7 linked regions of the Homo sapiens genome follow. The protein of the gene in region 3 purifies or fractionates together with the protein of the main gene of each other region. This does not show direct contact. Each region holds a gene or a part of one and is shown on either strand. Other genes may lie near its edges. The genes, in order: TWNK, EIF4B, ZBTB1, MTCL1, SLC25A3, ARHGDIB and SPTAN1.

Evidence for each region.
Region 1: the proteins of ZBTB1 (region 3) and TWNK purify together in Homo sapiens (affinity purification with mass spectrometry, with the first as the bait; one study listed by BioGRID). This does not show direct contact.
Region 2: the proteins of ZBTB1 (region 3) and EIF4B purify together in Homo sapiens (affinity purification with mass spectrometry, with the first as the bait; one study listed by BioGRID). This does not show direct contact.
Region 4: the proteins of ZBTB1 (region 3) and MTCL1 purify together in Homo sapiens (affinity purification with mass spectrometry, with the first as the bait; one study listed by BioGRID). This does not show direct contact.
Region 5: the proteins of ZBTB1 (region 3) and SLC25A3 purify together in Homo sapiens (affinity purification with mass spectrometry, with the first as the bait; one study listed by BioGRID). This does not show direct contact.
Region 6: the proteins of ZBTB1 (region 3) and ARHGDIB purify together in Homo sapiens (affinity purification with mass spectrometry, with the first as the bait; one study listed by BioGRID). This does not show direct contact.
Region 7: the proteins of ZBTB1 (region 3) and SPTAN1 purify together in Homo sapiens (affinity purification with mass spectrometry, with the first as the bait; one study listed by BioGRID). This does not show direct contact.

Annotation. Positions count from the first base shown.
Region 1 is NC_000010.11:100,992,723-100,994,903, reverse strand, and holds the end of TWNK (twinkle mtDNA helicase), read right to left. Parts: intron 1,715-2,181; coding exon 1,394-1,714; 3' UTR 501-1,393; downstream 1-500.
Region 2 is NC_000012.12:53,012,956-53,016,455, reverse strand, and holds part of EIF4B (eukaryotic translation initiation factor 4B), read right to left. Parts: intron 1-3,500. UniProt on the Homo sapiens protein: Required for the binding of mRNA to ribosomes. Functions in close association with EIF4-F and EIF4-A. Binds near the 5'-terminal cap of mRNA in presence of EIF-4F and ATP.
Region 3 is NC_000014.9:64,521,770-64,525,451, reverse strand, and holds the end of ZBTB1 (zinc finger and BTB domain-containing protein 1), read right to left. Parts: coding exon 1,806-3,682; 3' UTR 501-1,805; downstream 1-500.
Region 4 is NC_000018.10:8,712,056-8,715,555, reverse strand, and holds part of MTCL1 (microtubule cross-linking factor 1), read right to left. Parts: intron 1,415-3,500; exon of another isoform or gene 1,307-1,414; intron 1-1,306. UniProt on the Homo sapiens protein: Microtubule-associated factor involved in the late phase of epithelial polarization and microtubule dynamics regulation.
Region 5 is NC_000012.12:98,600,186-98,603,685, reverse strand, and holds part of SLC25A3 (solute carrier family 25 member 3 isoform b precursor), read right to left. Parts: intron 2,516-3,500; coding exon 2,405-2,515; intron 2,319-2,404; coding exon 2,158-2,318; 3' UTR 1-2,157. UniProt on the Homo sapiens protein: Inorganic ion transporter that transports phosphate or copper ions across the mitochondrial inner membrane into the matrix compartment. Mediates proton-coupled symport of phosphate ions necessary for mitochondrial oxidative phosphorylation of ADP to ATP.
Region 6 is NC_000012.12:14,948,102-14,951,601, forward strand, and holds part of ARHGDIB (rho GDP-dissociation inhibitor 2), read right to left. Parts: intron 3,051-3,500; exon of another isoform or gene 2,816-3,050; intron 2,624-2,815; 5' UTR 2,612-2,623; coding exon 2,431-2,611; intron 1,785-2,430; coding exon 1,701-1,784; intron 796-1,700; exon of another isoform or gene 699-795; intron 1-698. UniProt on the Homo sapiens protein: Regulates the GDP/GTP exchange reaction of the Rho proteins by inhibiting the dissociation of GDP from them, and the subsequent binding of GTP to them. Regulates reorganization of the actin cytoskeleton mediated by Rho family members.
Region 7 is NC_000009.12:128,576,587-128,580,086, reverse strand, and holds part of SPTAN1 (spectrin alpha chain, non-erythrocytic 1), read right to left. Parts: intron 3,265-3,500; coding exon 3,131-3,264; intron 2,959-3,130; coding exon 2,814-2,958; intron 2,736-2,813; coding exon 2,581-2,735; intron 1,978-2,580; coding exon 1,842-1,977; intron 451-1,841; coding exon 349-450; intron 1-348. UniProt on the Homo sapiens protein: Fodrin, which seems to be involved in secretion, interacts with calmodulin in a calcium-dependent manner and is thus candidate for the calcium-dependent movement of the cytoskeleton at the membrane.

The sequences.
Region 1 (2,181 bases), on a different chromosome or scaffold from region 3:
TGAGAAATGTACGTGGTGGAGGATGGGGGGAGAATGGGGCCTAGTTTCTGCATTTTTCACAAGTCCCCAGGAGTTCTGGCACGCATTAGCATATGAGAAACACGGAGAGGGTACAGGAGGGAGATGGATGGGGGTGGACAGAATATGTTGAGTCTAAGTCCACTTGAGAGGTGAGTGGCTCACATCACAGAGGAATGGCCAGTCAGGCAGGGCACTGGGCTCATGTGGCCCAGTGATGAGTACCTGTGCCAGGAATCACTCGAGATCCTCAGGGAAGTTAGGTATGAGGACAGATCATCTTGTCTTCCCTAGGCCAAGAAGAGATGTAAATGGAAGGTGGGGTGTGAAGGCCCTTTAATGTCCCTGCTTCCTTGGAAGCCCACCGCTCAAAGGCTGCAAGCAGTGGGAGGGGACCCGTCCATTCCCAATCCCGAAAGGGAAATTCAGCTACGGACTGGGGAGACACCTGGTGGATGAATAAGAAAAAGCACAGAAACAAAGGCAATGGAAAAATTTTTTAGTAAAACTGGAAAAGGCTCTATAAAATGTCCTGACTCCAGCAGTCTTGAGGCAGCACACAATGGCATCAGTGTCTAGGTGGCAGGCACTCCGGGCTGACAGCTTCCTTCTATGGCTCTATGACCAAGCAACCCAGCCCGAGGCAGCTCCCACCAGTGAGGCCCTGATATTGCAGGGCTAAGCACCTAGGATCCAATTCTAGTACATGCCACCTCATGCTAGGCTCTACAAAGTGGGGAGCAGAGGAGCTTGGTACCCACTGTATCACCCTTTGACTTTGAAAGCCTAGGCTGGAGTTTCGCATGAAGTCCCCGATTCCCCTCCAGGTTCATGCGGCCTGACCTCACTGCCTTGAATCTGACCTGCTCATTCCTACCTCAGGGCTTGGATTTCCTTTTCTCTCTGCCTGGGTCCCCTTCGCCGGATGTTCACGTGGCTCTCTCCTTCTAGTTGTTTAGGCCCCAGCTCACATGCCCTCGGCTCAGAGACACCTTTTCAGACCACTTATCTACACTAGCCTGCCAGCACTCTATCGCATTTCTATTTTCTTTACAGCATTTTTCACTAAAACTAGGTTTTCTGCTAATTTGTTCATTGCTTGCTTGTCTCTTCCGCCAGAATGCATGCAGGCAGGGACTTTATCTCTCTTTTCAGTGCTGTATATACAGGACCTCAAACAAAGCCTGAGCAACACAGTAGTTTCTCAGTAGTCTGCTACATTGAATTTTCTCACTATGGAAACCTGCTCTAGGTTAGGCCCCTCAGACTGAGAAGGGCACACAGCTCAGGACCACAGGATAGAGGAGCCCTTGCAGAGTTTTATGCTCCAGCCTATCCTATCAGGCTCATTTCAGTGACCAGCTCTGCACGGCCTTCACTTTGAACGCTTGGAGGTGTCTGGCTGGTCGGGAGTGGGGGCCTGGCCTGAGCAAATCTCAGAGTTCTGTGTCGTAGCCCCCTTTTTGCCAGAAGAGGGCTTTTTGGCCACTGGTCCAGTGTCATCCTTGATCTTCTTGAGCCGGGCCTTGTTCTTTGGTGGAATGGAGAAGGTGAGGGAGTTCTTGTTGAACTCAAGCGGGAAGACACCTACATCTCCATCAAAGCGGTTCTTGGACACCTGCAGATACCGTTTCCCTGGCCCGGTTACCAGCTTCCTGTCCTGCAGGATCAGAACATTGTCTGCTTCCTGGCTTGCCTGGGGAACAGGGGGCAGAAGGAGGAAAGCAGGAGTAAGAGGACATGAGCAAAGCAGAAAGGGGGGCTGACAGGGCAGGGAGGAGTGATAAGAATGGGGAGAGGGGCTGGGTACAATGGCTCACGCCTGTAATCCCAGAACTTTGGGAGGCCGAGTCGAGTGGATCACGATGTCAGGAAATCAAGACCATCCTGGCTAACACGGTGAAACCCCATCTCTACTAAAAATACAAAAAATTAGCTGGGCATGGTGGCATGCACCTATAGTCCCAGCTTCTTGGGAGGCTGAGGCAGGAGAATCGCTTGAATCCGGGAGGCGGAGGTTGCAGTGAGCCAAGATTGTGCCACTGCACTCCAGCCTGGGCAACAGAGCGAGACTCCGTCTCAAAAAAGAAAAAAAAAAAGAGAAAGAATGGGAGAGGGAAAAGTACTTCCCCCCATGACCAAAGCTCTTTGAACTACTGACCA
Region 2 (3,500 bases), on a different chromosome or scaffold from region 3:
AGAAAGATTATTCACCAATACTCAGGTATTTACAGAGTTGTACAATGCAATATTGTAAAACATTATTTAGAAAGAAATAACATGGACGCTCCTCAAATGGTTAAATTATGGCATTTCCATGAAGGGGTACTATGCAGACATAAATAAGAAATTTAAAAGTTGCAGAATACCTATTATGTGTAAACACATGTTTACGTACGGAAAAGGGTCTGAGTGTTTGAGATACACCCTGGAGAGTATGTTTGGAGTGTGGGGGCAACCTTTTATTTTCTACTATATTCACTTATCATTTGAGATCTTTAATTTTGTAACTACTTCTATTCAGTTACTACTTTCACTGCTCTTTGGATAAAAAAGATCAATAAAAATTCGTATCTCACATAACATATTCAGTATGGCAGTTTTGAAGACTGTTTTGACACTTGTAAACAAACCATATAGGGAAGGAATCACAACTGTCTTTTTTTTTTTTTTTTTGAGACAGAGTCTTGCTCTTGTTGTCCAGGCTGGAGTGCAATGGTGCCATCTCGGCTCACTGCAACCCCTGCCTCCTGGGTTCAAGCAATTCTCCTGCCTCAGCCTCCCGAATACTTGGGATTACAGGCACCCGCCACCATGCCCAGCTAATTTTTTGTGTTTTTAGTAGAGACGGGGTTTCACCATGTTGGCCAGGCTGGTCTTGAACTCCTAACCTCAGGTGATCCTCCTGCCTCGGCCTCCGAAAGTGCTGGGATTACGGTGTGAACCGCCACACCCGGCCCCATTTTTTTTTTTTGAGACAGGGTCTTGCTCTGTTGTCCAGGCTGTAGTGCAGTGGTGTGGCCACGGCTATCTGAAGCCTCAACCCTCCCATGCTCATGTGATCCTCCCACAGCCTCCTCAATAGCTGGGACCACAGAGGCACACTACCACGCCCAGCTGATTTTTAAAAAGTTTTTTAATTCCCTATGTTGCCCAGGCTGGTCTCAAGTATCCTGGAGGATCCCAGGCTCAAGTGATCCTCCTGCCTCAGCCTCCCAAAATGCTGGGATTACAGGTATGAGCCATGGTGCCTGGCCACAACTATCAATTTACAGAAAAGGAAACTAAGTCTCAGAGAGGTTAAGTGAAACACCAGATGTCTGTAAAGTTACAGAGACATTAGATGGCTAGGCTGAAGATAAAACCTAAGTTTTTTTCATACGAAGTCTAAGGCTCTTTCTATATACCAAGGTATCCTTGCATCTCAGCAGCTTATTCTATGTCAGGTTATCAAAACCACAGTAAAACGTACTGCTATTTGAAAGTGTTCAAATGTTAACAGTCATATTCCCTAGATCTCTCTGCCCTCTAGAAAAAATGTCCTCCTCTACTATAACAACACTGCATATGAGGATGTAATGCTAAAAGGAAAACACACGAAAACCCTAATAACCAACACATTTAAGTGTTTCCCACAGTTATGGAATATTTAGTAATCTCCAAATGGCTCAACTTAGTGAACTGACACTGCTCTTTCTTTGTGGTCCTCAGAACTTCCGAGAAGTCACCACCAATCAAGAGCTGATTCAGAAGAGCAGAGGGACTCAGTGAAGTTCCAGAACTGGCCTGATAGCAGCCACTACATGATTAAGAAAAAAACAAGCAGCTTTGTTGTAAAAAAGATTGGCTTCATGGTTTTTATAATCATGAATTTCTCCTCCATGTTCCAATTGTCACCTGATTTTTAATCCAAGAATATCAAACTTGATGTACCCCTTTGTTTAACTGAAGGTTGCTTTCTCACTTGGTATCCCTTTCTTTCAAAATTTAACTTTCAGGAAATAAAGGTAACCAGTTTGCTATGAATGTTAACACATAGCCTTCTGGACACAATTAGAACCTGAAGTATTACGGTCTCAATGTGCAAACCAGATGAACCCGGCTAAAATAATCAAAGTTGACCACGAACATGGTATTTTCTGTATCTCTCAAGTGACTTAATATTAATCCAGCTCCAAAAGTATTGTTTATGATCAACCAGATCACATTTTGAATCCATCCTACGCTTTTTTTTTTTTTTTTGAGACGGAGTCTCGCTTTGTCATACAGGCTGGAGTGCAGTGGCGCGATCTCAGTTCACTGCAACCTCCGCCTCCCAGGTTCAAGCAATTTCTCCTGCCTCAGCCTCCCAAGTGGCTGGGACTACAGGCGCGTGCCACCACGCCAGGCTAATTTTTTTTTTTTTTTTAGTTTCACAGTGTTAGCCAGGATGGTCTTGATCTCCTGACCTCGTGATTAGCCTCCCAAAGTGCTGGGATTACAGACGTGAGCCAACGCGCCCGGCCTGCTTTTTCTTTTTTCTTTTTTTGCAGTGGTGCAATCGTGGCTCACTGCAGCTTTGACCTTTTGGGCTCAAGCAATTCTCCCACTGTAGCCTCTTGAGTAGCTGGGACTATAGGCATGCACCACCATGCCCAGCTAATTTTAAAATTTTTTGTAGAGGCAGGGGTCTTGCTACACTGCCCAGATTGGTCTTCAACTCCTGGCCTCAAGTGGTCCACCCGTCTCAGCCTTCCAAAGTGCTGGGATTAGATGTGAGCCACTGCACTTGGCCTTATTCCACAGCTTTCAAAGAATACGGTTACAGAGAGGTTGGGTCTCATAGCACTTTTATTGCTGCAGCTCATATGCAAAGGTTTTTTTTTTTTTTTAGAGGGAGTCTCACTCTTGTCCAGGCTGGAGTGCAGTGGCGCCATCTTGGCTCACTATAACCTCTGCCTCCCAGGTTCAAGTGATTCTCCTGCCTCAGCCTCCTGAGTAACTGGGATTACAGGCATGTGCCACCAAGCCTGGCTAATTTTTGTATTTTTAGTAGAGATGGGGTTTCACCATGTTGGCCAGGCTGGTCTCAAACTCCTGACCCCAAATGATCCACCCACCTCGGCCTCCCAAAATGCTGCGATTACAGGCATGAGCCACTGTGCCCAGCCTCATATGCAAAGATCTATGGGAGATTTTAATAAGCGAACACGAGTAAGACATGAGGTAAACCACTTACAGTGCGTGGGCTTATTTTAGACTTTTTCATATCATTTAATTCAAAAATAGTGTCTGGGATTAATATGATGCTAGCTACAGATCCTTACCCTCATGGGGCTTAATCTAGTACCATCAGCTAATATCCAATTATTAACCTGTCCTTCCACTGGGAGGATAAAAACAGAACTGGTGGTCAGTACAATAAGGTCAAGTTCAACAAAAGAACATTAACAATCTGAATAAGGTATCCCTTTCCTCTTTGTTCTATATACGTATCTTCTACCAAAACAGCAGAATGTGGAATTAATCTGCCCTTTAGTCCGATTTGGCTTAAATCAACTTTGTAGATCACAGTTTCTCAACTCTCACCCCTTGACTCCTTTGACAAACAAGTTTCTTCTTTAACGTTATTTGAAATTTCCAAACAAATTAAATATCATGACTAAAAAATATTAAAAGCACTTTTAAATCTTAGAATGTCTTTTCAAATCACAAGTCTC
Region 3 (3,682 bases):
GGTTCCTATCAGTAATATACATACCACATTTCATTTTAAGTTGGATTTCAAATTTAATTACTTGATAAACTATTGTATCTAAGTAAGGGTAAGATGAATCACTTTTCCTGCTTTTGCTGTTAAATTTTTAATTTTTGTGTGTATTCTACCCGTCCCCTGCCTACTTCCCGTTATTTGAATTCTGCACTTGGTTCCTGTGCTGTTCCTATCCTTACTTAACACTTCAACATATCCCCACAAATCTGAGCTCACATGGTGCTCTAATGCTTTCAACTAAATCTGTACTCACCAGTATGTCTCTCAGTTCTTTTGGCAACTTGTTCTTTTATGTAAATTGTATACAAAATATGATTTGCATATTTTAAATATGATGTGAACAAAAAGAGCAATGCTATTAGTGTTCAGAATCACAAATTTATATTTTTAAAATTAGGAGTTAATTAAAATCCCTTTCATTATGAAAAGGGTACTACATTGCAAGTAATTCACATTAAAAGGCATTCTATTCAATAGATGTGTTTATTGGTGGGTCAGTTTTGCCAATGTTTTAATTCACATGTAATTATGTAGACCCTGTGTCAGCAACAACTAACAATACTACTACTTTAACTGAAAAAATGATAAACTGTTTCCATTGATATACTCTGTGATTATTTTATAATCCTCAAGTTTTATAGTCTTTTACAGAAAAAAATGATAATAAAATATGGCGATAAACTGCAATTTGCCACATTTCCTCCAAATCTTAGACAGTATAAAACACAAGACATTTTTTTGTGCACTCTACTTTTATAGAACAACCAGGTTTATAATTGATCTCTTTATTTTATTAGATTTATCAATATACATGGAAGCTTTCTCAAATCTCAAAGTTCCAGAAGTATGTATTGTAAAAAATCATCTTTTCCTTTAGAGGTCATATTCTTAGAGAGCTATTAAAGTCTATTTATAAACAAAAATAATTGATAAGCTAACACACTTTAGAAATCAGAATATTTTAAATTAAAATATTTTTAATGAATACAAGATATGTCTTTTTAATTAACTATCATAGTTAAATTTAATATCACAAAACAAAATGGCTTATCCCCACTAATTTTTCAAGTGAGGTAAAGCCACTGGAATTTACACTTAATATAAGTTTTAAATGTGATAATTAAATGATAATATTTTATCAATTATAGGAAATATTCATTTATAAAAATTTCCTCAGGTTCATCAATCTTTTTAGGCCAAGTTTGAGCCCATGTCAACCTTAAAGGTTAGATTCAGTGCACCTAACTTGCCTAATAAGCTTGTCAATTTAAGAATATGAATTTCATTAATAAGGGGGAATAAAGAGTAGTTAACTCACTAAAAGCAAACGGGATAGTTTCAAATAATTACTTAAGGAATTTTTAAAATTTAAACAGAAATGGCCAATGATTCTGGGTTTAAAATTTCACAGGATAACCTTAAAAAAAAAAAAACACATAGAAATAGTGAAGTCATCACCTTATTGATGAAAAACTAAAGTTTAATAGTCATTGAATGGGTAACAACCACTTGTAGTCTACATTTAAAAATTTTAATCATAGCTAAGAAAAACTAAAAACAAATAATTCTATTAAGAAACAACAAAAATGATAAACATTTAATACCTAAATGTAGATACTTAAAATCCTAAACAAAAATATTAAAGTTAAAAGGGCCTTGAAATTTGTTTCTAACAAATCATCTTATATAATCAATTCCTAAATAGCTCATATCCTTTGCTTTGGTGTTTTATCTGCTATCATCTAAACATTAGTACAGTAGAAAATCACTCAGGTTCTTTTCAAATGCTTGGCATTATAATGTGATCTCATATCTTTCCTCAAATTAAATTTTGCTCCACATATTCCACATGTATACAGATGAACATCCATGTGCTGCTCCAACTGTTCATTATTTGGGAATATCTGAAAGCAGACCTGGCATATAGTCTCACCAGCAGATAAATGAGAAATCATATGCCGTACATGGTCATGTTTTCTGAAGTTTCCTTGATCACAAATGGAACAGACATACCTGGCCATGCCTTTGTGCATATCATTGTGCAGTCGCAACTGACGCTCTCTTAAAAACTGCTTTCCACATGTTTGACAAACAAACTGTTTTTCCTTAGTATGAACAGTATAGTGTTCTCTTAAGTGACACCGCTGATAAAATCCTTTTCCACACAGATTACAAAAATGCTTTCGTCTGTGATCTCTTTCATTTTCTTCCATGATGGCACTCTTAAACATATCTTGATCTAAGCAGCTAGACATATGTTCAACCACTAGATTTTCAGTTTCAAAACGCTGGCCACAATTAGGACATCGAAAAGGGCAGGCAGAATGTTTAAATAACTGCTTTTTTTGGATACTGTTTATCTGGTAATGATTGTCCCTAAAATCATCCAGCATTTCAACAAACATATCTCTTATTTCGGACTGCTCATCAGGATTCTCTTCCAAGTCCATTTTCTCCTCAGTATTTCCTAACCCATTCATGGTCAGATCTTGGGGCTCGCCACATCGTTGAGCATGTTCCTGAAGCTGCCTACCCTTTACAAGTATTTGTCCACATTTACCACATGCACAGATATTTTCAATGTGTTTGGCTAAGTAATGAGATGACAGGTCCTCCTCGGTTATTGTAAGTCCACACAGCTCACAAGATGCATTTTCAGCATCCTCTTGTACTGGACTGCTGTTGTTAGGGGGCCTCATATTCTCTAAACCACCTCTTTCATCAGCACTTACTGACATTCGAGGTTTTAGAGTTTTCCTACCACTTTTTTTTATGCTGACATCTTCTTCAACATAGTATCTATAAAATGGCTCTTCAGGTTCATCTTCTAATTCATCATTGTCAGTGGATTCATTACAGTCTTTATCAGTAACTTTAATAATGTTAAAGTCTTTCAGTTCATCTGTAGGAATATCTTCTGGCTCCATCTTAATAATAATCCTTTTCCTCTCAGCAGCTCTGCTTTTCTCTTCGCTTGCTATTTCAGACTCCACTGTGCTACTTTTTCTGCTTCCAGTGGTTGAAGCTGAATCATCAGCAGCCTGGCTTGTGTCTCCTCTGTATTTGTCCGTCTGTGCAGAAAATGTTTTGGAAGAATCTTTTTCACCAAATTCAGCTTTGATGTTACTGTCTTTTCCATCTCTAATATCTACTATTCTATGGTAAGATCTTGTGTTTTGGTATAAATGTCTGTTAGTACAGGTTAGCACATGCTCATCTAATAATTTTTCACAGCTAAAGCCAAATCCACAGCTATCACAGGTAAAACTCCGCCCAAAGCGTCTTGACACACGTTCTTTTGGAGTAGATAATTTGGACACGGAACTTTTTTTACATACATCAAATAGTGGCTCAGGAAAATTACCTAATTGTAAAGACTCTTCATCAGCCTCTCTATTATGTGGTGTATTTACCGTTGAACTTGGCTCTGCACACCACCTGTTGGCTTCATTGCCATTTCGAGCCACAGTATCTTCATACATTCTTACCCCAAATATCATTTTGCTGTTCTGTTTGCTGGAAGCAGAAGAGGAACATTTTGAACTAGAACAATCTGCATCCTGGATGTCTTCTAAACAGTCAGGAACATTGTATAGCTGTAGGTAGTTCATTGCCACTTTAAACTGCTCAAAACTGGAGGGAGCTG
Region 4 (3,500 bases), on a different chromosome or scaffold from region 3:
ATACAAGCAATAATCACTAAATGTTCAACACTAAGTCAATATCTGTATATGTATATGTACATGTATATCCACACATACAAATATACAGTGACTCTGGCCATTCTGTTCATGGAAAGAATGGTTTGTGATTGCTTTTCTTTCCAGAAAGCCTGCCAAAGTCATTAATGCCTGGGATTATCGGCAACTAAGACAAAAGTTTTTAAAATGCAATATAGCCCTAAGATGCAAGATACAGCTTCCAGGTATAAAATGTCTCTAGCTTTCAGACTTTGCAACTGGAGAGCCCACATCCACCCTAATGTTAAATGCTGCATTTTCATACAGATGTTACAGGCTATGAAAACTGTTCAAGGGCTAGATGCACCCACACCTCCACATCATTGAGCAGACCAGATGTAAATAGCAATATTTTTTGGCACAAATAATCACCAACATTAGTTGTACTGCAAATAAAATTAGGGGCCGGGTGCGGTGGCTCACGCCTGTAATCCCAGCACTTTGGGAGGCCGAGGCGGGCGGATCACAAGGTCAGGAGATCAAGACCATCCTGGCTAACACAGTGAAACCCTGTCTCTACTAAAAATAAAAAAAATTAGCCAGGCGTGGTGGCGGGCACCTGTAGTCCCAGCTACTCGGGAGGCTGAGGCAGAAGAATGGCGTGAACCCGGGAGGTGGAGCTTGCAGTGAGTGGAAATCGCGCCACTGCACTCCAGCCTGGGCGATGGAGTGAGACTCCACCTCAAAAAAAAAAGAGAAAAGAAAATTAGGGAGAGATCATATGATATGGTTTGGCTGTGTCCCCACTCAAATCTCATCTTGAACTGTAGCTCCCATAATCCTCACGTGTCACAGGAGGGACCCAGTGGGAGGTAACTGAATCACGGGGGCGGGTTTCTCCTCTGCTGCTCGTGACAGTGAGTAAGTCTCAAGAGAGATCTAATGGTTTTATAAACGGCAGTTTCCCTGCACACGTTCTTACGTGCCTCCATGTAATATGTGTCTTTGCTCCTCCTTTGTCTTCCACCATGATTGTGAGGCCTCCCCAGCCATGTGGAACTGTGAGTCCATTAAACCCTTTTTTCTTTATAAATTACCCAGTCTAGTGTTTCACAGAAGTATAAAAATGGACCAATGCACCATAACGGCATGTATTTAAATCACTGCTCTTATAATTCATATTTTACCTAAATTTACAGAACAGGCGTCGTTTATTAAGCACCTCACCCTCATTACTAACCCTACAATAACCCTGTCAGGAACACATTATGCAGTTGATAGACAAAAAAACAAAACTGAGGCTAGTTACCTGTGTCCAAAGCTTCACATCTAGTAAATTGAAGCCACACTGCAAACCCAGGCCTGTCTGCTTTCAATCACACACTCTTTCGAGTAAATACCATAAATTATTTGCTTCAACCTGGACAAATGAAACAATAACAGACCTTCAATTGTACTTTTAAAAGTCCACCATCAGTGTAAAACAAAAAAAGCAGCCTAACATTTACAGCTCGACAAGTGACGACACAAAGCATATCCATTAGGGCAACTGGTTCTTAGGAAGACACTGCAACGTGCGGTAAAGATATCCGTGCCCCTTCCCCGCTTTTTTTAAAGAGACAGAGTCTCACTCTGTGACCCAACCTGGAGCGCAGTGGTGCAGCCATGGCTCACTGCCACCTTGAGCTCCTGGGCTCAAGTGATCTTCCTGCCTCAGCCTCCTGAGTAGCTGGGATTACAAGCACATGCCACCATGCCTGGCTAATACTCCCATCTTTAAAACGAGGAAACTGAGATTCTAAAAGTATAAATGGCTTTCCACCATTATTGGTCTGCTGCAGCAATAGGACCAGGGCCAGTGTTTCAACTCTTCCCAGAGAGCCTAGAAAAAAGTAATTTTCAGGTTCAGTGAAAAGAAGTTAAAGACAAGCAAATTATAAACCATGTAAGCTGGCAGCAGCCATCTGAAAAGCAAAAACTATGATTACTGGAATTAGGGTCATGATGGATAGTGATTTTCAAACTAACATTACATTAATTTTCTGACGGCATGCTCCAATTTAGAAAACTGTATTGCAGAACCTTAATGACATCTGCCAACTAAAAATTTAAGTAAACCAAATCGAGCAGAGCATATGATGTTTCTGACAGGTGTAATTTAGAGATAGTACATAAAATTGGAAAATCGCTGTTGTCTTTTTATACACGGAAATAAGAAAAAGCTGTCCTTAATAGTTTTTTACTGAATTAACATCAAGTCTGGAGGATACTTAAGTATTAAATCATTATCTCATTGAAAAGCTAGTTTTAATTAAATACCTTTTTAAAGTTTTGTATATAAAACGAAATCTTGAAGTACTGTGAAGTCCAGTCGACTATTCCCCTTTGCCTGTGGCTGACAAATCAAGCCTTATCATGTATCTCAAATTAGAGGAATAATGAGGTACCAGGTGTGCACTAGAGTAAACCAAGATTAAAATTATATGTTTTAATGAAAACCTCTAAAAGGATAGTTTTATCCATGAATATATAATAAAAGTCAAATCCATGGCTTCTTAGTATAAGTGATGAAAACTCTTAATCATGTTAATAACTATATGAAAATCTTAATCTCTTTTAAATACCCAAAATCAGTAACTATCTCTATTTTAGCACCTCCTCTTTAAATAGACCCAGTTTGGATGGTAGAAGGAGTCCTCTGGCTACTGCTGCAATAATTCTATCTTCTGGGCAGACAGAAACTACTGTCTTTTGTAACATACGAATAATCCACCTCATTTCCCTCCAGACAAGGGAAATGTTCTCCAAGAGTCCCAGCTGTAACTAAGGAGGTGCAGGGCGACTCCCACTGTCTACCAGGTGATGGTCCAGCCAGCAGCTGGTGGCCGCAGCCCTTGTCTACATTAACTGCCACTGAAAATGATCATAGCCACTCTTTCAGTGGCTGAATACAGAGTGGGTATGGACAGCGAATGTCAGGAAAGAATGGGGAATACTGTCCATGTTAACCCTTCTGAAAGAGAAAGGAGGAGGAGGCGGGGAGCAAGGAGGCGCTGAGACACCTCAGCTACAGAGCACTGCTTGCGCTCCTCTCCAAGTGCCCCTCCACCCCCAGGCCACACTGAGCACCCGGCATCTGGGCAGCCCAGCTGCCAAATGTCAAAAACCAGGTCAGGGCCTGAAACTCAAAAGGCTAACTCCAATGAGAAGCAGGATGGTAAGCTTGGATCAGCAGTGAGACACTGCAACCTATAAAACCAAAACTCAACCTCTCCCTTAGGAAATCATTCCTCTCCAAGAAGCCAATTTTCTCTGCCCTTGTATCTAGCACCAACTTGTTTTCTTTTAACAGAAAAATATTTCCTATGAAATAACTGAGAAAGCAAAGCAAAGCAAAAAGAAACAGCTCTTCCCACCCCAATCCTCACCCACCCTGCAGGAGGTCAGCATGGCAAGAGGACACTATTTGGGGGTGGGGGAGGTGTGGGGTTATGGCTGCTAAA
Region 5 (3,500 bases), on a different chromosome or scaffold from region 3:
CACAAATAAAACCTATTATAACTCTTAGGAAATAAAACTTGAATCCTGATTGGCAGAACTGCCTCAGTAAGGGCTGGCTGAACTGCATACCCAAAATGTTTTAGATCTACGGTCCACTTTCACGTTGGCTGGACTAATGCGTTTCTACTGCTCCTCTTACACGTTGACTGACTTTCCTCTCAGGAAGAGGTAGAGACTATGTTCCTTTTTTCCTCAATCTGGGACTTGGTTTCTGAGACATCACTGTTGTAACCAAGAGCATGGTAAAAGTGATGTTATGTGACATTGAAGGATAAGTCCTAAAAAGCCAACTCTGCCAAGCTCTCCTGGAGCCCCAAAATACCACCTAAGTCCAGCTGCCCTGAAGCCACCATGCTAGAGATTTTCGGGAAAGACTATACCACTAATAGTGAAAAGCACAAAGAGCATCCTTTCAGCTCAGAAGTGAAAAGCTTCATGAGACTCAGAACCAGAAGAGTCTGATACTCCCGAGTTCTTCACCCACAGAAAAGCTTATCATACACCATTGATCTTTGGATGCTTTGCTAACATAGCAAGAAATAATATACAGTTGATACTGCTAAGCACCACAGCCACCACTTGGTTGGGTTCAGAAGACATCCTACTTTACCTTTTTAAAGTTTGGTCCAAATTTGTACCTACAACTTTTCCTTTTTTCCTGCAGCACAGGTAAAATGTTGGAACCTTTAACAAGTTCAGGCAATGATGATATAAAGAAGTTAACATGCAACTAGCTGCACTGGCTTCTAAATTGAGTTCACTGACCTTACCATGAGTTTGTAGTAACATTTCTCTCCAATCTCTGAAAAAGTTTTTCTCTCCAGGCCATCTGTACGCTTTACGTAGGGACTGTTAACCAACCCACGTATTACACATAAGGACTCTAGGTAAAATCTAGTGTTTGAAAAACAGCATGTTATATATTACACTAGGTTTTTCGTTTTTTTTCCAGTGGTGGGCTGTCATTACAAAAGATTGAACTTTTATACACTTCCTAATCAAACTTAAGGGGAATCTAAACACAAAAACTAATTCACTTTCTAGGAGCTCTTTAAAAATGGGCTTAAACCTACAATCCAATCTCGTATCTAAGTATGATGGAATGCTTTTTCCCCAGTGGCATTCATATAGTTCAGCTGTCAAGCAGTACCTTTCTTAAAATACCAGACTGAAAATAGTTCAATTTTCTGTAAAAAGTCAGAGCCGGGCACGGTGGCTCATGCCTATAATCCCAGCAGTTTGGGAGGCTGAGGCGGGCGGATCACCTGAGGTTGGAAGTTCGAGACCAGCCTGACCAACACAGGGAAACCCCGTCTCTACTAAAAATACAAAATTAGCTGGGCGTGGTGGCACATGCCTGAAATCCCAGCTACTTGGGAGGCTGAGGCAGAACAATCGCTTGAACCTGGGAGGCAGAGGTTGCCGTGAGGCGAGATCGCGACACTACACTCGTCTGGGCAACAAGAGTGAAACTCCGTCTCAAAAAAAAAAAAAGTCAGATCTGTGTAAAGAGAATTAGTGTACCTGAAAATTGTTTTCAGCTGTCAATCACTTTGGTCCTTTACTGTCATTCTAAGAATCAGCCTAATTTGGTTTACCTTGTCTTACAAATAAGGATTAGCAAACTCACCAACATAAAAAAGGTGTAGTACATGCTGCAAAAATGTAAGTATACACTGACATTTACTTGCCAAAATAACCACAAATGACTACACATATTTAACTATAATTAAATCAAGTTTTTAGAAATTTAAAGTCTGCTTCCCTAGAAATACAGGAACTTTGTGTGATAAAACTTGAGACATATGACAATTTCTGAATAGCAACTGGAATATTCAACCAACAATGGTCATGGTCAGTTTTGTATTTTTTCCTTAACTTATATACTTCATTCTTTCCAACTATTTTAAAGCTAAATCTTTTTTAAAAAAGTTTTAAAAATAAGTCACAGGCAAATCATGAAGAGTTGGGTTTATTTCAACAGTAAATCTGAAACTCTTGCCTTAAGCAAGAGTACTACAGTAATTATATCAGGAATAGACAATTTCCTACACTGTCAAATATATAAAAGTTCCTTTTGCACTTTCTTCAACACTGATCAACAAGCAGATTCAGTCCACATTTGCTTTGATCTAACTACTGAGTTAACCCAAGCTTCTTCTTCAGAGACTCTGGCATCTCGGGTGGAGGAGGGCGAGGAAGTCTGAAGTAGACCTTCACGGAGTCATAGATAAACCACTGTAGTGCAGTCAGGGTACCAATCATGATGATACGGGCAAACAGTCCCTTCCATACACCTGGTTCAAACAGGAAAAGCAAATGAAAAAAATGCAACATATCCAAAACTGTTGTTCTTTCTTTCAAGAAAAAAACATCATCCTACCTTTAAATCCAAGTCTCTTGAGGACCAGAGAAGCACTGCTACCTTTTTCTTTATTCAACACAGATACCACAGAATCAGCAGGGTGAGAAACAATTGCACAAAAGACTCCAGCTGAAAAAAGATAAAGGATCCCATACAGTGCCAGTTAAAAACAAAACTTCACAGAGCCAATAATCATTTTTATGATTTTAAAATAATATTTTTCTAGTTCTAAAATAAAAATCAGACTCAGGGTGACACGGGTACAGTTATCAAGCTGTCTATCCTATGTAAAACGGAACAATCTTTTAAAGTTTTTCAGATTTTATTCAACACTTTCTGTATAAAATTCTTAATAAACAACAACAAAAAAATGGTGCAACAGTAAGATCAATACATTCCCAAGCCTAATAATGACATCCCATGAAACAGCCCTTTTAGGAACTAGTTAGCAAGTATTTATGAATCCTAAAAAGCATATAAAATGTTATGGGAAGATAAAACTGCTTTATAGGCCAGGCACATCACCTGAGGTCAGGAGTTTGAGACCAGACTCATCAACATGGTGAAACCCCATCTTTACAAAAATCAGGCCAGGCGCGGTGGCTCACGCCTGTAATCCCAGCACTTTGGGAGGCCAAGGCAGGCAGATCACCTGGGGCCAGGAGTTTGAGACCAGCCTGGCCAACATAGTGAAACCGTCTCTACTAAAAATACTAAAAATTAGCCGGGCGTAGTGGCAGACGCCTGCAATCCCAGCTACTCAGGAGGCTGAGACAGGAGAATCGCTTGAACCCAGGAGGCGGAGGCTGCAGTGAGCCAAGATTGCACCACTGCACTCCAGCCTGGGCAACAAGGGTAAAACTCCATCTCAAAAAAAAACAAAAAACAAAAACAAAAATCAGCCGGGCATGGCGGTGCATGCCCGTCCCAGCTACTTGGGAGGCTGCGGCAGAAGAATCACTTGAACCCAGGAGGAGGAGGTTGCAGTGAGCTATTATCATGCCACTGCACTCCAGCCTGGGCAACAGAGCGAGACTATGCCTCAGGGAAACCAAAAAAACAAAAACACTGCTTTATAACCTTTGGAGTATTTTTCCCTCTCAAAAAACGCCAA
Region 6 (3,500 bases), on a different chromosome or scaffold from region 3:
ACACACACACACACACACACACACACACACACACACTTAATGCCTGAAATCTTACAGCTCTGTTATGAAAAACATGAGAGTTTCCCTGCCCCCAAGTTTGATGACAATGCTAAAAATACACAAGACATTACAAATAATGAGTTGTGAAGATAAATCTTTTTTTGGTCCATTTATTCTCTCATTGAGAATTATATTACTGGTCAAATGAAGAGGTTATTAAAGAATATGCCCCTTACCCCTCAAATAAAACATATAAGAAAAATAGTATTTAGGAGTGTCAGCTATTTGTTTTTATAGATTTGGTGATGTTTGTGGCATTTTCTAGCTTTTAAAATTCTACTTGTTTTTATTCATTTTATCACTTTAAGAAAATGTTCACCTTTGTGTTTACTCTTGTATTTTCATTTGCAATTTCATACTATTTTTCTTAAGGAATATCACTGAAGTTATAAAAGCTTCAGGTTCCATAAAACCAGGATCTGTCCCAAATTCCTGTACCCTGATTAAGGAGGTAATCACTCTCTATGCTTTTCTTCATGCATAGCAGCTTGTTAGTGACAGAAAACCCAATTTGGTTTTCCTCTGCTGGGAAAGGGGACAGAGACCAAGTTTTCCTTGCAATACTACCAGGTCCTGCTGAAGAGAACAGATTTCTTTAGCGCTAATTCAGACCTTATCTTGCAAACTGGCAGCTGTACCTGGTAATATTAGGAAGACTCTGAGTTCTGGTGAGAGAGCGTGAGTTTCTCTCCTGGAGAGATGTCAGCATGTCGGGGTAGCTGAATGTGTGTGTGTGCCTGCTCTAATGATTTCAGTTGAACAGGAAGTGTGCCTTCTCAGCCTCTGATTTCCTCCCTCTGACAAAAAAGCCCATATAAGGTAAAGACTGGCTGTGTCCTGTGAGAGGGGAACTACTCTGCTGCTAACTAAGCCAACTGTTCTAGACTTGTGCTTTGTCTGTCTCACAAGAGTCCAATTTTTTCATTTGGTAACTATTTTTTTTTTCCACTAAAAACTTGCCTTTGAAGGCCCCAATCTCCTGGCTCCGTGCTTCTCCTCTCATATCCCCTCTGATGCCCATTTCCTCCACAATAACCCCCTTCCCAGTCTCTCTCCTCCTCAAGCCCTAAGTCTCAGGGAAAGGCTTGACCCTTAGTTACAATAAGGTGAAAGAAAATAACATCTTAATTTGTACGCCTTTAGTAGGAGACGTTGTTTATTTAACAAGAATCAGAGTTTCAAGCTAAAACAATTCAATCTATAGCAGTGGAATTTCTAGTATAATTCCGGATTGCTTCTCACCTTCCAGTAAGTTTTGTAGTGGATAGAAGATCAATACTTTGATGTTTAGACTGTATAAACCTTATAACTTCAGAAGCACACAATTTGTTTCTTAATATTTCCATCAGCAGTCTTTATTGCATAAATAACAATTCTCTTACTATCATGTGGAGACAAAAATCTGTAAATATATCAAATGTGTATGCCTGCACTCTCTTCAATTAAATAGAGATAAAGATTGGGCTTTTCATGAAACATGGTAAATACTGTGCACTCTAAGAGCAATGATTTGTTAACTGGTCCTAGCATATATATCTCTCTGATTCACCAGTTTTCTTCTGTTGGAACAGGAGACAGAGACCAAGTTTTCTTTGTGATATCTTAGGCCCCCTTTGAACAGTACAGATGTGTCTACATACCAGTAAGGTCCATGGTGATTGGTCCCGGGGCACTCTCACAAACCAGGGTGAGCCGGGTGACAACGACATTGGGGGCTTTCGGATCTGCAGGATCGAAAGGGAATGTAAGTACCAAGAAGAGACATGTGTATAGTGGGTGTGTGCATTTCAAGTGGGAGACAGAGAGTATGAAAATAAAAGTGATCTTTCTATCTGGAGTAGAAATAGAAATGGATGTGGCAGGTTTGCTATGCTTGGTCTTGATGGCCTTGTAAATTACAGCAAAGTTATTTCTGCTTTAGGCACTTGTAGGTCCATCTAATTATTGACATCCAACATTTCCTGAATGGCTATGGGTCAGGTACTCTGCTAATTGGGCACTGTCCATTTATATCTCTGGGCCATGTCTTGTTCTGCCGCGGTGTATGTGGAAGAGATGAACGGTTAGGTAAGGACTGAGAAAGAGAGAAAATGGAGAGAGAGAAATACAATTCTAAGTGGTAGCCTGGAATTCTTTCTAAATCCCCTCTGTGTGTTATGTGTGCCTATCTCACTGCTGACTTGCATCTTATCTCTTAAGAAGACTTAATTATACAGTTCATAACTTTAATCAGCATATATAAATTGTGCCTCGCTCACTTTTTCCTGGAAGCAGTTGGTCCTCTTCCCTTTGCTGCTGCTCCTGAGCAGCCAAAATGTCTTCTTCCCTCTCAGCGATCTTCCACCCACCCTGTTCTCTGTACACACATACCTGTCACCACAGGACCATCTCCCAGCAGCGTTTTCTTGTACTTAATTAGACTCTCATCATCTTTGTCCATTTCCTGCAGCTCTTTCAGGGACTTCTGTGGTGGAGGCTTATAATTGAGCTTGCTGTCCAGCTCATCATCGTCATCCTCCTCCACATGTGGCTCTGGGGCTTTTTCAGTCATTCTGATCTATTTCTGGGAGACAGAATGACAGCCCGTTAGTCAACAAGTCATGAATATAAAAGATGTTAGTGGGGCTGCTGTTAGCAGCCTCCTTACCCTCATGGACTTCTCTGATCATCAGTCACTTTCCTGATTGTTTTCCTAATTCAATCTCATTAAATTCTATGAAATAATAATCTAATGTATTCTAGTAATTTCTCTGACCTGCCTGAATTTCTCTGTACCATTGTAGTATCTTCTATTCACTGAACAAAACTGACAAGAAAGAAATCACTCATATGTGAATAACGTACTACGAGTGAAGCAACATGGCACAAAGACTCCTGAACAAATGAAGCAAAAGCCCAGTCAAAAAGCTGTAGGAGTTATCACAGTCCTCCAAATCCAGCCAGCCTGGCTAGCGTCAAAGCTTGCAGCATGCACAGTCTGAGTGATAATGGTGGAGAGAGGCAGGAGAGAGAAGAGAGAGGTGGAGTACTTGCCAGAGAAATGGTTGGCTCCTCCCCATCAATGGAATCTGTCCCTGAACTCCAGCAATGCCTCAAAGATGACTCATGACGAACCGTTGACCTTTATGATACCTGCCTCAGGTGCCTGCATGGTTCACACCCAACACTGCTAATCACCCCTCAAGGGTGGGTACTAGGTTTGCTGTTTTTCTTGAATTCCCCCTAAAACACTTGCATAGTTCTGGCACTTTATACAATTTCCTTGATTGATATATAAGGTTTTATATCTAAAGATATTCTATTCTTTTTAAATGCCACAAAAATAGCAAAGGACAGTTTAAATTCCTCCAGACAAAATCGTAAGTACAAATTTGCCCTTAGCATTTGTCCATCCATTTCCCTTTTCTGGATCCACTTCCCTTTCAGTCTCTCCCCTTCTC
Region 7 (3,500 bases), on a different chromosome or scaffold from region 3:
CCTGCCTTGGCCTCTGAAAGTGCTGGGGTCACACCACACCTGGCCTATGTATCATTTTATAAAAATTTGTTTCCTCTTTGCTCCAACTCCTAATGCAAGACTCAGCTCCCTACAGAAAGTCCCTGTAAGTAGGAAACATGCCACACATGCCCCAGATAAGGAGGACTGTCTCTCAGGAAATCAGCACACTATACATATACCTTCTTTTTAAACCTCTGCAGAGAAAGGAAAGTTTCTCACATATCATGGTGAATGCGTTCTCTGGATATTTAAGGATGAATAATAGCTTTCAGAGACTTAGTGAAAGGTGTAATTTGCTCCTCAAAAGCTCCATTTCTCTTCTCTTACCTTCTCCCTCACTTCATCTGAGGCATAGTGACCAGCAGCAAGCAGTGCCTGTCCAGATTCATCTGCAGATTTGAAGCTGTCTTCATGGGCATCAATTTCACCCTACAGGAGAAAAAAACAAAGCCATGATTTGTGCCCAGCATCTTACAAAATAAAAACAAGGTGCTGAATTTTACATAAGCATTATAAGCCAGACTATGACATCTAAAATGAGAAACAAAATGAAAGATTAGGCCAGATTTCCTAATACATAATCAGTCTAGGTCATCAAATGTGAGAGTATCACTCACTGATGAAATCCTTTCCAAATGGCTTTTCAGGTCACCTGTCATTTGTCAAGGTTCCACACATTCACATGGGTCTGAGCTCTCTTTCATTCCAGGGCTCTGTCTTCTTTGTGCCAAATGGACTTGTTTACTATGATTTTATAGAACCTGGTAGGGCGAGTCCCTCCCTGGCCCCATTATGATCTTCAACATTGTCTCAGCTTTTTTTGAATTTTTTTCTTCCAAATCAGTTTTGGAATCAGCTTATCTCATTGCAAAAAGAAACACACACATATACCTGCTGAGCACTTGACTGGAACTGCATTAACGGTATATATCCTGGTGGGAATTTACACCTTCACAGAAGATCGTTCCATCTGTGTACTAGATAAATCATTCTATCTATTCAGTTTTTATTTAATGCCTTTTAACAAAGTTTTATAGTTTTCTCCAGAAGTGTCTTACACTCTTTTGTTAGACTTATTCCTAAGTACTTTATATTTTCTGCTCTAATAAGTAGTATTTTTAAAAATTATGTTTCTGTTGCTAGTGTAGAGAAACATGTTTGACTTTCAGTATATTGATTTTGTATCTAGCACATTAAAACCTCTCAGAAGGTTTTTTTTTTTTTTTTTTTCTTTGAGACAGAGTGAAACACTCTTGTTGTCCGGACGGGAGTGGAATGGTGTGATCTTGGCTCACTGCAACCTCTGCCTCCCGGGTTCAAGCGATTCTCCTGCCTCAGACTCCTGAATAGCTGGGACTACAGGCGCGTGCCACCATGACCAGCTAACTGTTGCATTTTTAGTAGAGATGGGGTTTCACCATGTTGGCATGGATGGTCTTGATCTCTTGACCTCATGATCCACCCGCCTCAGCCTTCCAAAGTGCTGGGATTACAGACATAAGCCACCGTGCCTGGCCCAACAAATACTTTTTACATCACAAAGGATCAATGTGCCAAGTAGTAGCACTTCTATCTCGCCAGAGCTTGTCTGTTTGCTTTTATGGACCACAGTGAACCTCTTGACACTGAACCCAGTTAAGCCTCTATCAGAAGCAGGTAGACCAGGTCTCCAAAGGCAAAACCAACCATAATCCTCATGATGAGAAACACCTGTGAATAACATGGTACCAACGCCGACTATAGGCCTCACCCAACACTGATAAACTGGTGCATTATAAGCTAAAATCTTCACTTCTGGAAGATTCTAGAGATACCATTACCTTGTGCTCTTGGTGTCTATCTAGCAGGGCTTCAGCCCCAGCCACATCACTGGCAAGCTCATCTGCATTGATGAGGGCTTTCATCTCAGTCACCCAGCTGGTGAGGTCACGGAAGTCAGCAAGGAAGCGTTGAAGCCTAGGGAAAACCAAAGGAAGACATTATGTTTCCAGCGGAGGTTCCAGGGTGGAAAATGGCCTCCCTAAAGCTCTGAATTCTATGTTCTCAAATGTCTAACAAACTATATAAATTCTAATTCTGGGAAATATGAAAATTTCCCAATCTAGACTGTGAAGGAAAGCAAGAGAAGGCTGAAATCAACCCTTTAAAACTTAGGTTCTCTCCATCACTATAATGCCCCAATCCTGTCCCACATTTTCAACTTCCTTGTTATTCCCAGGTTCAACCCTTGGCTAGCAAGGATTCTTTTCCTTTCTAATCCTGGTTTTAATAAGATATTTCATGTGATACTCAGATACTTAAAGGGACATTCCCATTCTATCAATCATAATGCAGTGATGCAGAATAGAAGAATTTATGAAGTTGTAAATACCATACGTATACTACACATGATACAGTTGCCAGTCTCCAAACAGAGAGAACATAGGTAAGAAGTGATTTGCATTTGTAGGTGATACCTGACACTTTCACAGAACACAGAACAGACCCTTAACTCTGCTATTCCTGCTTCCAAAAAAGAAGCCAAATGATACTGGTTAAGACCTGGAGCATTATTTGCACCTGTATGAATCATTGAGCCGTGCATGTCTCTCTGCCGCCAAGGTGCGGATCTGCTCCCAGTTTGTAATCAGTTCCTCTCGCTTCACTTGAATCTGTGTTGCACTCAGAGGGTGGGACTGTTGCAGGCGGTCAGCCTCAGCACACAGGGCTTTGACCTAGAAATGAACTCCGTCAGAACTATTCTCCTGACCCTTGGTAACTTATTTACAGAATCAGCTGCTTGTAAAACCCACCTTGTCTTCTAGAGCAGCAAGATCTCTCTCCAGACCCTCGTGCTTCCGAAGCAGAGCCTGAACACTTGCCAGGTCTCGGCCAAAATCATCAGAGGCCATTAACTGCTCCTTTTCCTTAATCCAACTGATAGTCTCATCCACATCCCTACAGAACAAAGGCACCAGTTAATCCACAGCAATGATGACTCCCTAGAACTAGGAACACCCCATGGGACCAAGGCCTAGTCAGCCTCGACAGCTCACCAGCACATGCCCTGTGCTTCACAACTCCCCTCCAGGTTGAGACCCATTCCCCAAAGCCCACTCTGGCTTGACACCTGTTAAAGCGCTGAACTTCTGCTGCCCCAAAGAGCTTCCCCTGCCTCTGCAGAGCCAGGCCCTTCAGCCGCTGCCAGGCTGCATTGACTTCATCCTGCTTAGTCTTGATCAGTTCCTCCTCAGGGTGCTGCTCCTAAACAAGGAAGAGAAGAGACTGGATTTGTACACAACTTCTGGCTCCTCCAACTAGTTACCCTGGGGTTGGTTCCTTGAAGCATCTCAGCAAATCACCACTCTGAAGAGAATCACAAGAAATAATGGTCAACATGATACAAAGTGAACTACAACTCCAAAGAGTTTCTATTTCTTATGTAAAAAGGGGAGAGCCATTCTCTATCTTTTGGAGTAGTGTGGTTAGTCTATAAGGTG